3 separate regions of the Homo sapiens genome follow, and regions 1 and 2 are each linked to region 3. Evidence: fine-mapped expression QTL. A gene starts in region 3. Each other region holds a variant in brackets. All regions are shown on one strand. Distances are from middle to middle.

Region 1 (4,241 bases), 29 kb after region 3:
TTGCAGGCAACAGATAAATGGCTCTTGGTTTTTCATCCATTCAACCAGTCTATGTCTTTTGATTGGAGAGTTTAGTTCATTTACAATCAAGGTTACTATTTTGTTTTTTTTTTGAGGCAGAGTTTTGCTCTTGTCACCCAGGCTGGAATGCAATGGTGTGATCTTGGCTCACTGCAACCTCCACCTCCTGTGTTCAAGTGATTCTCCAGCCTCAGCCTCCTAAGTAGCTGGGATTACAGGCACCCACTACCACAGCTGGCTACTTTTTTTTCTATTTTTAGTAGAGATGGGTTTTCACCATGTTAGCCAGGCTGGTCTCGAACTCCTGATCTCAGGTGATCCACCCGCCTTGGCCTCCCAAAATGCTGGGATTACAGGTGTGAGCCACCACACCTGGCCAACAATCAGTGTTACTACTGATAAGTGAGGACTTCTGCCATTTTGTCAGTTGTTTTCTGATTGTTCTGTGGCCTTCCTCTCTGTCCTTTCTTTCCTACCTGTCTTCATTTTAGTGAAGGTAATTTTCTCTGGTGATGTGATTTAGTTTCTTGCTTTTTATATTTTGTGCTTATGTTGTATGGATTTTAGTTTGAGGTTACCTTGAGGCTTGCAAACACTATCTTATAACCCATTATTTTAAGTGGATAACAACTTAAAACTGTTTGCATAAGCAAACAAGCAAGCAAAAAGAAAACTAACAAAGATGCTATGCCTTAAATTTGTCCCTCCACTTTTAAACTTCGTTGTTGCTGTTTATATCTTATTGTATTATCTATGTCTTGAAAAGTTGTCGTAATTATTATTTTTGATTGGTTCATTGTTTAGTCTTTCTACTTAAGAGTAGCTTACACATCATAGTTACAGTGTTATAATAATCTGTGTTTTTCTGTGTACTTACTATTACCAGTGAGTTTTGTACCTTCGGATGATTCCTTATTGCTCATTAATGTCCTTTTATTTCTGATTGAAGTCCTCCCTTTAGCATTTCTTGTAGGACATTTCTGGGGTTGATGAAATCCCTCAGCTTTTGTTTGTCTGGGAAAGTCTTTTATTTCCCTTTCAGGTTTGAAGGATAATTTTGCTGGATATACTATTCTAGGGTAAAAGTTTTTTCCTTCAGCATTTTAAATACATCATTGCACTCTCTCCTGGTCTATAAAGTTTCCACTGAAAAATCTGCTGCCAGACATGTTGGAACTCCATTGTGTGTTATTTTTTTCTTTTCTTTTGCTGCTTTTGGCATCCTTTCTTTATCCTTGACCTTTGGGAGTTTGATTGTTAAATGCCTTGAGATAGTCTTCTTTGGGTTATATCTGTTTGGTGCTCTATAACCTTCTTGTACTTGGATATTGATATCTTTCTCTAGGTGTTGGAAATTCTCTGTTATTATCATTTTGAATAGACTTTCTTCTCCTCTTTCTATCTCCTCTTTAAGGCCAATACCTCTTAGATTTGCTCTTTAGAGGCTATTTTCTAGATCCTGTAGGCATGCTTCATTCTTTTTCATTCTTTTTTATTTTGTCTCCTCTGACTGCATTTTCAAATAGCTTGTTTCATTCTTTTTTATTCTGTCTCCTCTGACTGTACATTTTCAAATAGCCTGTCTTCAAGTTCACTAGCTCTTTTTTCTGCTTGATCAGTTCTGCTACTAAAAGACTCTGATGCATTATTCAGTATGCCAGTTGCATTTTTCAACTCCAGAATTTCTGCTTGATTCTTTTTAATTATTTCAATCTCTTGTTAAATTTATCTGATAGAGTTCTGAATTCCTTCTCTGTGTCATCTTGAATTTCTTTGAGTTTGCTCAAAACAGCTATTATGAATTCTCTGTCTGAAAGGTCACATATCTCTGTTTCTCCAGGATTGGTCCCCAGTGCCTTATTTGGTTCATTTGGTGAGGTCATGTTTTCCTAGATTGTATTAATAGTTGTAGAAGTTCGTCTGTTTCTGGGCATTGAAGAGGTAGGTATTTATTGTAGTCTTTATGGTCTGGGCCTGTTTGTACCTATCCTTTTTGGCAAGGTTTTCCAGATATTCAAAAGGACTTGAGTGTTATAATCTAAGCTGTATCTGCTTTAGGGAAGACCCCAAGCCCAGTAATGTGGTGGTTCTTCCAGACTCATAGAAGTACCACCTTGATAGTCTCGGACAAGATCTGGAAGAATTATCTGGGTTTCCAGGCAGAGACTCTTGTTCTCTTCTCTTATTGTTTCCCAAACAAATGGGTGCTCTCTCTCTCTCTCTCTCTCTTTGTTCTGAGCCACCTGGAGCTAGGAGTGGAGTGACACAAGCACCCTTGTGGCCACCAACCCTAGGACTGCTCTGGGTCAGACCTGAAGCTAGCACAGCACTGGGTCTTGTCTGAGGCCTGCTGTAACCACTCCCTTTCTACTGCCTATGTTAGTTCAAAGCCTGGGGGTTTTACAATCAGCAGGTGGCAAAGCCAGCCAGGCCTGTGTCCTTCCCTTCAGGGCAGCAAATTCCCCCAGGCATTG[G/A]GTGGGTCCAGAGGTACCTTCTTGGAGTCAGAGACTAGAGGCAAAAACCTTAGAAGTCTGCCTGGTGTTCTATTTTCCTGTCACTCAGCTGGCGCTCACACCATAAGACACAGTCCTTCCCACTCTTCCCTCTCCATTCCAGAGGTAGAGGAGCCTCACTCCATGACCACTGTCACCTCAGGCCCACATGGAGTACTGCCAGACTACCACTGATGTTCCCTTAAGGTTCAAGGCCACCTGAGTCAGCTCGTGGTGAATGCTGCCTGGCCTGGGACTCACCTTTCAGAGGAGTGGACCCTCTACACAGGTCTAGAAATGCCATCCAACAGCCAAGTCCTGGAATAGGGAACCCCAAGAGAATACTTGGTTCTCTACCCCACTGTGGCTGAGCTGATATCTAAGTTGCAAGACAAAGTTCCCTTTACTTTTTGCTCCACTGTCTCAAGCAGGAGTCTTGCCCCATAGCCACCAGAGCTGGGAAAGTGCTGAGTCTCACCTGAATCCAGCAAGACTCAGTGTCTCACCCAAGACCCTCAACCTAGTACCTGGGTATTGCTGCTGGTATTCAGGACCTAAGGGCTCTTTAGTTAGCAGGTGATGAATCTTGCTAGGACTGGGTCTTTTCCTTCAAGGCTGCAGATTCTCTTCTGGGCCAAGGTGTGGCTAGAAATGTCCAGGGGCTAGGGCCTGGAATGGGGGCCCCATGACTCTCACCAGTGCCCTATCCTGCTGTGGCTGAGCTGGTATCCAAGATGAAAGACAAAGTCCTCCTAACTCTTCCATCTCCTCTCCTGAAGCAAAAGGAAGGGGTCACTTTTGGAGCCATGAGCTATGCAACCCGGGGTGGGTGGGGGGTGATGCCAGCACTCCCTTAGACACCCCAACTGGTGTCTCAGTAGGTCACGTGCTTCCCCTAGTCCACTGTTTCTGGGCCCAGTTCATCCCAGGAATTGCCTAGGTGTTACAATCCTTGTGGCCTAGACTGCCTTTCAAGTGTATCTGGGGCTCCAGAGTACTTTAGTCCAAGGTGATGAGGCTTGCGGGAACTGAAGTTCGTACTGCTGGGATCAGAGATTCCCCTCTGTCTAGGGTTTAAATGTTTCCTCTGTGGGCATGTGTCAGCTTAGTTTGGTCTGGTTTTGCTTTCTCTTATAACAAGGGTAGCACTGAATTCAATGCCTCACAATTGCTGGTTTCAGTGCCTCTCTCAGAGATATGAAGTTAAAACCAGGTACTGTGAGAATTCACTTGATTTTTGGGTCTTACAAAGGTGCTTTTAAATTGTTAATAGTTGCTTTTAAAGCAAAGGAAAGGTGCTTTTAAATTGTTTAATTGTTGTTAAATTGGTGTCCTTGTGGGAGGTGATGATCTGTGGAGCTTTCTATTCCATCTTGCTCCACCTCTCCCTAGGTTGTCTTCTTTCTGTTTAGTTGTAGGAGCTTTCTTTTCTTTTTTTCTTTTGAGATGGTGTCACTCTGTCACCCAGGTTGGAGTGCAGTAGTGCCATCACGGCTCACTGCAGCCTCAAACTCCTAGGCTCAAGTGATCCTCCCACCTCAGCCTAATGAGTAGCTGGAATTACAGGTGCATGCCACCACACCCGCCTAATTTTTGTATTTTTTTGTAGAGATGAAATTTTGCCGTGTTGCCCAGGCTGGTCTCTAACTCCTGGATGCAAGCAATCCACTTGCCTCAGCCTCCCAAAGTGCTAGTATTACAGGCATGAGCCACTGTTCCTGGCTAAGT
Region 2 (4,241 bases), 75 kb after region 3:
TTTAAGTGTTGCACAAAACTCAGAAGCCATAGAAAAGATTAACAAATTTAATAATACAAATAAAATAATTCTGCATGGCAATCAGACAAAAATCCCACTATAAACAGAGTCAAAAGAGAAATGATGTTTTGATGGGGAAACGATGGGGACAATATTTGCCACAGAAATTAAGTTATTTAATATAACAATGTGCTCTCTCAAGTCAATAAGAAAAAGAACCACCATCAAAGAAAAAGAGCAAAGAACAAGAAAAGGAAGTACGAATGGTTCTTAAACATATGAGAAGATGACTGACCCACTCATAATAAAGTAAATGCAAATATGGACAATGAGATGCCATTTTTCATCTATCTGGTATCAAACCCAAAAGTTTGATAGCATGTTGTGTTGGCGGGGATGTGCAGGGAAGTATGTCAACATATCTAAGATAAGAATATAAACAGATGGAACCTCTAGCATTGTTATCAGAATTAAAAACACGTGTCAGTGCTCTTTGACTATAGTCACACGTCTAAGGATTTATTGGACAGATATGTTCACATGTGTAGAATGTATATGCATGCATACTTCCTGAAACATTATTTTGAAAAGTAAAATCTCAGAAGCAAGCTTACTGTCTGCAATGGGAGGCTGGATAAATAACATGGTTTTCATACAGTGGAATGTAGAAGAATGAGACAGTTTTATATATACTGATAGGAAGGATTTACAAAATACATACTGAATACTTCCATAATTGTATGCTGATATATGCCTAGGATATTCCTGGAAAAAAATGGAAGAGATTTCCTCTGGGGAGGAAAACTGTATAGCTGGGGAACAGCAGTGAAAGAAAGAGGGTGACTTTATACCATGCTTTGTGAATTTTGTACTCTAGGCATGTATTACCCATCTTTTAAAAAAGAAATAGCCAAAAGAATCAGAAGAGGGGCTTTTTTCTCAACCTAATAGGATATATTTTAAAGTTATAGAAATGGAAATTGTGACATTGCTATAGAATAGGCAAGTAGATTAGTAGGACAGAATAAACTCAAGAACTAGACTGTGTTAGTCTGTTTGGGCTGCTATAACAAAATACCATAGCCTGGGTGGCATATAAATAACAGTTTAGAAGAACTGTTTATAAGAATTGTTTCTCACAGTTCTAGAGGCCAGGAAGTCCAAGACTGAGGCGTCAGCAGGTTCAGTGCTGGCTGAGGGCTCACATTCCCTGATTCATAGATGGTGCCTTCTCACTGTGTCCTCACATGGCAGAAGAGAAAAGGGAGCTCTCTGGAGTCCCTTTTATAAGGGCACTTATTCCATTCTTAAGGGCTCCACTCTCACGGCCTAGTCACCTCCCAAGCACCGTGCCTTCTAATACCATGACATTGGGGATTATGTTTCAATGTATGAATTCTGGGGGACATCAACACTCAGACCATGGAACAGACCAATATACACATGGGCATTTGGTGTGTGACAAAATGGCACTCCAGTATGTGGGGATAGATGGGTCAGTAAGCACAGTTGGTCTAATTGGTTATTCATAGAGAAGAAAAAGGTGTTGAATCCCCACCTTGCATTATGCACGAATGTAAATTCCCACTTGTTTAAAGGCCTAAATGTCCAAAACAAAACCACAAAATATTTTAAAGAAACATAGAAGAAATATGTCGTTTTGACTTTGGGGTAGGGAAGTCCTTAAAAGACAGAAAAAGCCCTCCCTTCCCACCCCACAAAAAGCTGGGTGAGGTGGCACCTGAAGTCCTAGCTATTCTGAGGCTGAGGCAGGAGGATCTCTTGAACCCAGGAGTTTGAGTCCATCCTGGACAACATGGCAAGAACCCATTCCTAAAAAAAAGAAGAAGGAAAGAAGGACGAAAGAAAAGAAAGGATGAAAACTCTTCAAAGTAATATATATATCTCTTAAATGTGTTTGTGTGTGTGTGCGTGCGTACACTGTGCATTTATATTTCAAACTCATAATAGTGGTTCCTTTAGGTAAGGTTGGGCATGGAGAGGGATTGGGAATGGTGGGCTTTAGCTTTACATGTAAAGGGCTTTAAAAATTATTATTTAAGGAATTTATTTTTTTATTATACTTTAAGTTCTAGGGTATGTGTGCACAATGTGTAGGTTTGTTACATATGTATGCATGTGCCATGTTGGTGTGCTGCACCCATTAACTCGTCATTTACCTAATGTAAAGGAATTTATTTTTACTGTTAATTATTGTCATAATTTGACACTAATCTTTAAAAATTTTTTTTATAGAGATGGGGTCTCACTGTGTTGACCAAGCTGGTCTGGAACTGTTGCCCTCAACTGATCCTCCCACTTCAGCCTCCCAAAGTGCTGGGATGACAGGCATGAGCCACCACTCCCAGTCTCTTACCTAAAAAATAATAGAAAAAATATTCCCAAACTGAAGAAAGCCAATACATCTTTAGAATAAAAGAGTCTGTTGAGTGTTGAGC[A/G]TGAACAATGAAAAAAAAAAGATTCAAATCTAAATATATCCTCTTACAATTTTATAATGACAATGACATGTAGAAAAAATCTTAAAAGCTCTGAGAGAGCAGAGACTTTCAATTCATATTGCAAATGGTTTCTCCCAAAAGATGCAGCCACCGGCAATTTTCAGGAGCCTCTGGTCCTACCGTGTTCCTCTTGCCCACCTACGTTTGGCTGGGTTCTGTGGGAATAGAGGCCCTTTAGCCGATGTCCCACCTGCAGAAAGAATTGCTGAAGCCGCAGTGAGAGGGAGGTCAGCTCTGGGTTTGGAAGGTGATAATCCTCCCCAGTCTGCTCCTTTGGAATCTTGTAGTGAGGTTTCTGTGTATCCGGGAGCAGGTAAAATGAAACTACTTTGAACAGAAGTGAGCTGTGCTGCCCATCGTGGGGCCCTGAACCCTCACAATAGTGTTTCTTACTTCCCTACTCCTTCTTGTAGACCAAAACACCTGATGGTTTTGTAGGATTTTCCAAGGTACTTTCTTTACCTACTCTATCATCACTGCTGAGAGATTTTAAAATGTAAGATGCAATCGACCACCCGAAGAATGTGTGAGCCTGTGGCATAGAGCTGGGTCCTCTGTCTTAAGGCTGCAATTTCAGGAATTTCTTAATGTATCTTTTATGTGTTGTGATGATGAAAGACTCTAGTGGAACTCCCTGTTTACACAAAATGTGACACTTACAAGTTTCCAAGAAAACGCCCTGCCTGTCTGGCAAAACGGAGCTACCAGAAGACTTGGAATCAGGCGAGGATGCTTCTGATATGCACGTTATCCACACCCCACGGGACAGAGCTCTCTTGCCAATGGTTGGCGGAACACAGGAAAGGCTTGTTCTGGAAGATCCTTCTATCTCAAACCCATACAAACACTCTCAGCCCTGCTCAGGCTGGAGCTCAGGATGCTCTTGTTGCAGCTTCAGGGAGGGGGCTCAATTTCCTTTGGAGAAGATGTCTAAATCCTCAGAATGCAGTGGCCCAATGCTATAAACAACATCAAACGTGAAAGAGCAAACTAGATATAACTGATGGAGGATGAATATTATTCCGATATTTATTCTTCTGGCAACGGAGTGTGAGGGGCTCATCTCACTACACTCTCGTATTACTGGAACTACAAGACATAAAAAATGACATTCCGCTTTTTTTCGACACAAAGTCTTGCTCTATCACCCAGGCTGCAGTGCAGTGGCGTGATCTCGGCTCACTGCAACCTCCGCCTCCTGGGTTCAAGCAATTCTCCTGCCTCAGCCTCCCGAGTAGCTGGGATTACAGGTGCCCATCACCACACTAGGCTAATTTTTGTATTCTTAGGAGAGACGGGTTTCACCATGTTGGCCCGGCTGGTCTCTAACTCCTGACCTCATGATCTGCCTGTTTCGGTCTCCTCATGTGCTGGGATTACAGGTGTGAGCCACCGTGCCTGACTGATATCCTACTTTTAAGTGCCATTGGTTGAGTGCCTGAGAAGAAAACATTTTTTCCTTATGATTGTTCCTTTTTGTTTTGTGTTTGTTTCACAGTCTGGCTATGAGGAAATGATTGTTCCTTTATAAATCATGAATTTTCTGTCATCTGTGAATTTTCTTTTCTTTTTTTTAATTTTATTATTATTATAGTTTAAGTTTTAGGGTACATGTGCACAACGTGCAGGTTTGTTACATATGTATACATGTGCCATGTTGGTGTGCTGCACCCATTAACTCGTCATTTACATTAGGTATATCTCCTAATGCTATCCCTCCCC
Region 3 (4,241 bases):
GACGCGAGTCTGCCGAAGCTCCCAGCGGAATAAAAAAAACTCTTCCTTCTTTAATCCGCTGTCTGAGGGGTTTTGTCCGCTGCTCATCCATGCTCCATTTCTTTGTTCCCTGACCGGGAATCGAACGCAGGCAGCAGCGGTGAGAGCACCGAATCCTAAGCACTAGACCACCAGGGGAACTTAGAACCTTGTGGGAAATAGATTGCGCACCATTAGAAGTGGGTTGGCCATCAGAAGGAAGCCTGGACAGGTCCCTTGTTTCTAAGGCGTGGCACAAGGTAACTGGTAAAGATACCTAGACCAGTTCCCATACATAGACACTTGGTGACAGCTGGTGCTAGAACCCCCACAGTGGCTGAGGGCATGCAGCAGCAATACTAGTAGCAAAGGGACAGATAGCTAAGGAAGGATCCCGCTCCACTCACCCAGGGAAATCAACTCCTGAAGTTCTGTTCGACCCCACATCAGAGGATCCATTGCAGGAGATGGCACCAGAGATCCCAGTGGTGTCCTCCCCTTAACAGGGAAAGAGGCTCCCCACTCTTGAGCCCACAGTGCTTGTGCCTCCACAAGACAAGCATATCCCTAGGCCACCCAGAGTAGACAAGAGAGGAGGACTATTCATATGATTAGTGGTCATTAACATATACTCCTTTGTGAGGTGTATGTTTCAATGTTTTGCTCATTTTTAATTTTTACCAGGTTGTCTATTTGTGATTACTTTGTAGATGGGTCTTTCTATATTCTGAAAACAAATCCTGGCTGGGTGCGGTGGCTCACGCCTGTAATCCCAGCACTTTGGGAGGCTGAGGTGGGCAGATCACCTGAGGTCGGGAGTTCGAGACCAGCCTGGCCAACATGGACAAACCCCGTCTCTGCTAAAAATACAAAAACTAGCTGGGAGTGGAGGCTGAATGTTTCACTCCGTTACATGTTAATTGCTCTACATTTAATTAGCCGTCTGTGGTGAGAGGCGAGAGGCTAGCGCCTAGCTCAGCGCACAGTCCAGGGCGTTCGCCCCCGCAGGCCGCGGGGCAGGGTGGCTCGTTACTCCGTGGACACTGCAAGGCGCCCTGTTCGCGCTGCGTCGACGCAGTAGTTTCTTCCCATAATAAACCCCTTCTAGATAAAGTCAGGCTGGCGGGAGCGCCCTGGACCGTAGTTCAGGCCCCCGCGCTCCGCGGTGGGAACAGTTCAGGACTCCCCCAACTCCTGCCCCTCTCGCCCCGACCCTCTCCACTCCGCCCGCCCACCATCTCGGAAGTCCCCTTGGGACAATGCGTAGGGGACCTCCGCGTCCCCGACACCCGACTGGGACACGGCCGCGGGCTCCTTCGTCCCTCACCGCCAGCCAGGGAGGCTCTGCATGCCCACGTCCACTTCACAGCCGAGGAAGCTGCGGCTCGCGGAGGTGCCTGGCACGCGGCGGGAAGCAGCAGAGCTCGCGCCCAGCAGTCAGCTCTGGTGACGCCGAGGACACCGCGTGGGCCGGGTTGTCAGGGCGCGGGGGCGAGAGGCGGGTAAATATTTGGGGCTGTAACCGGGGCTTCGGCGACTCCTCGTCACCGCGGTTCCAGGGCGGGCGCGTGGCGAGGGCGGTGCCTGGGGGCAGGGGCCTCCTCGGAGGGCGGCGGGGACAGACCCGTCGCCCCGGCTCCGCAGCCCCGCCCCGGCCCCGCCTCCGCTCCGGCCGCCGAAGGCTATAAGATCTAGGAACCCGAGCCGGTGGTAGGGCGGGCGCGGACCGTGCTGGGAGCGGCGCGGCTGGAGCGCAGCGCCGAAGGGACTGGCAGGGCTGAAGTGTGCGGGACAGCAAGCCCCCGAATAGCCCCGGCTGCCACCTCGCAGGACCCAAGGCCACGCGCGCCGGGCCCAGCTGAGCCGCCTCATGAAGCCGCCCGCGGCGCAGGGCAGCCCCGCGGCCGCCGCGGCCGCAGGTGAGTGCGGGGTCCGGGGTCCCCTTAAAGTCTCGGCTCTGCAGATGGCGGGTGAGAAAGGAGGGGCCCCGTGTCGTCCCTTCACACCCCCCACCCTTCCATCCTCCCCGGCGGGAACCTGTCCCCGGTCTTCCCGCGCGGGCGGCTGCAGCCTCCTTTCCGGCCCGGGCTGGCCCCCATGTCCCACCTTCCCTCCACCACCAGCTCCGCGCGCGCCCGGGGTTGGGGGGAGCGGCGGGGACAGGTAACCGGCAGCGCCTGGGGAGGAATCTGGCCGCGCCAAGTCGCTGGGTGACCCTGGGCCTGGCGAAGGCTCAGTTTTCTTGTCTGTAAAACGGACTTGGTAATAGAACGCACTTCGGGGGTGGTGGAGAAGATTACAAGGTAACAGCGACTGCGTGGCTGTCACTTGGCAGAGGCGCCAAGTGTCAGTTATCTTCGGGAACCGTGGCGGCCCCTCCTGGCCCTGGGAGGTGGTCCCGCTGCCCCCCTGACTTCCGTGCACTGAGCCCCTGGCCCTGCCCGCAGCCCCGGCCCTGGACTCGGCGGCCGCGGAGGACCTGTCGGACGCGCTGTGCGAGTTTGACGCGGTGCTGGCCGACTTCGCGTCGCCCTTCCACGAGCGCCACTTCCACTACGAGGAGCACCTGGAGCGCATGAAGCGGCGCAGCAGCGCCAGTGTCAGCGACAGCAGCGGCTTCAGCGACTCGGAGAGTAAGTGCGGCCCCCGCTAGGATGGCGCCGGGATCTCCCAGCTCCCAGGACCTGCCCCGCGAAGGCTGCGGCCTCAGTTTTCTTATCAGTAAACTGAGGAATGGTTTCCTGAAGCTCAACGCAGTAGGCCGAGTGGTGGCGGGGCCCCTGACGATAATCACGGGAAAGGTCGCTGGAGGGCAGGTTGGTTCACTTGCCGCCCACGGGTGTGTCACCAGGCAGGCGAGTTTAAGCAGCTTGTCCCGACTCAGCCAGACAGGACTCCCTGGACCTGCACCAGGCCTTTCCGCAGTTTCCCTCCTCTTCTCCTTTCCGTGCCTCTCCCCTCTCAGCTGTAACTTTGCAGATGTGGAACAAGTGCCAGTGGAATGAGGGGGCACAGTGGGGACATGGGAGGGCGCAGAACGGAAATATTCATGAAACCAGGAAAGGTTTCATAAGCCCAAACTGCTGTTCTTGGGATTTATGAAATAACTGCTTGCATTGTCTTCTGGCCCTTAGCTCTCAGACTTGTTGCTCCATTGCATGCAGTTATGAAAATCTTTGGCACTGCTGAGTTCAAGTATTTTTCAGCCAGGTCCTCCACCAGGCTGGAGGGGGAGCCAGAGAGCACATGGGCATGAAGGTGGTTCCTGGTGATCTTTCTCACAATGGAGACTACCCCAGGGTCTCTTTGTCCTGAACAACTTTGTCAACAACAGCAACAACAACAAAAACAACAAAAGAGACAGCTTTTTCCAGGAACTCACATGTCCTGGGAGGATTACAGGTACCTCAAACAGCAAATTAGGTGCCTTTTTAATATTACATGATTGTTGGTTTCAAATCCAGAATTGCTTATTGTTTTTCAAAGGGCAAAGTCAATTTTAAACTCTTCTGTGTTATTCTTCAGCCTTTAATCCTTAGATGGGTTACAGGCATGAATGTCACTCCTTTTGCTGCCCTTGACTCAGGACGTGAAAGTAATGGCCTTTCCGTGTGATTCTCTTATTTTGAAACCTGGAGCTCTTCCTTGTTCCTGGGCTAAGATTCGGGGCTAGACATGAACATGAGCTGCCCTTCTGCAAAGGGATAAATGCGCTCACCACCCTGGTCAGGGTTTGACTCAGGAAGCTGAGTTCCAGCTTGTTTCCTTGGCAGCACTGCCAAAGAGTTAGACCAAGCTGCAGCTTTTGAGGTGAAAGGGGATGGAAGAAAGTACTGTTACTTTTCCACTTAGAATTTTTGGACTTTGTTCTTAATGAATAGGTTCATTTTCAATTTCAAAGCAAAGTGTTAACATTTTTGAAATTTGTCTCAATTCTAAAGGCCAAACTTAAATATGTCTCCTCCTACTGGGGCATGGAGCAAGTTATTCATCAAATACAGATTCTCGCATGGAAAAGAAAGCTAGGATAGTGTGTCGCTGCTGCTCTGTGGCAAAGAACAGCTCCTTTCTAAGCAACAGCCTCACTCTACTAGAATAGGTCTGAGCGCGCCCATTCATGGCTGATTGCAACTTCCACTGGGTGGGATTTCAGATCTAGAATCTGTTTTCAGATGCCTTAAAGAGAAGACATAGAAACACATTCTTAACAGTTTCAGGGGAGA

The links. PIP is the estimated chance that this variant, and not a neighbour inherited with it, causes the effect. A credible set is the group of variants that fine-mapping cannot tell apart.
Region 1: its variant is the best candidate, but not a certain one, in a credible set for the expression of RGCC in nasal epithelium (TOPMed, PIP 0.73).
Region 2: its variant is the best candidate, but not a certain one, in a credible set for the expression of RGCC in whole blood (TOPMed, PIP 0.83).

What each region holds. Positions count from the first base shown.
Region 1 is chr13:41,484,716-41,488,956 of GRCh38, forward strand. No RefSeq gene overlaps it. Among named protein-coding and RNA genes, the nearest start is that of RGCC, 29 kb to the left of the region's middle. The variant G/A (reference allele first, on the strand shown) is at 2,496.
Region 2 is chr13:41,530,656-41,534,896 of GRCh38, forward strand. All of the region lies in intron 1 of LOC105370174 (a long non-coding RNA gene), which reads left to right. Among named protein-coding and RNA genes, the nearest start is that of MIR5006, 36 kb to the right of the region's middle. The variant A/G (reference allele first, on the strand shown) is at 2,460.
Region 3 is chr13:41,455,820-41,460,060 of GRCh38, forward strand. RGCC (regulator of cell cycle) reads left to right here and starts at 1,731. Exons shown (of 5, transcript NM_014059.3): 1 at 1,731-1,937; 2 at 2,466-2,651. The coding sequence starts at 1,889. RefSeq lists a silencer at 1,504-2,343 and enhancers at 1,917-2,594, 2,644-2,773.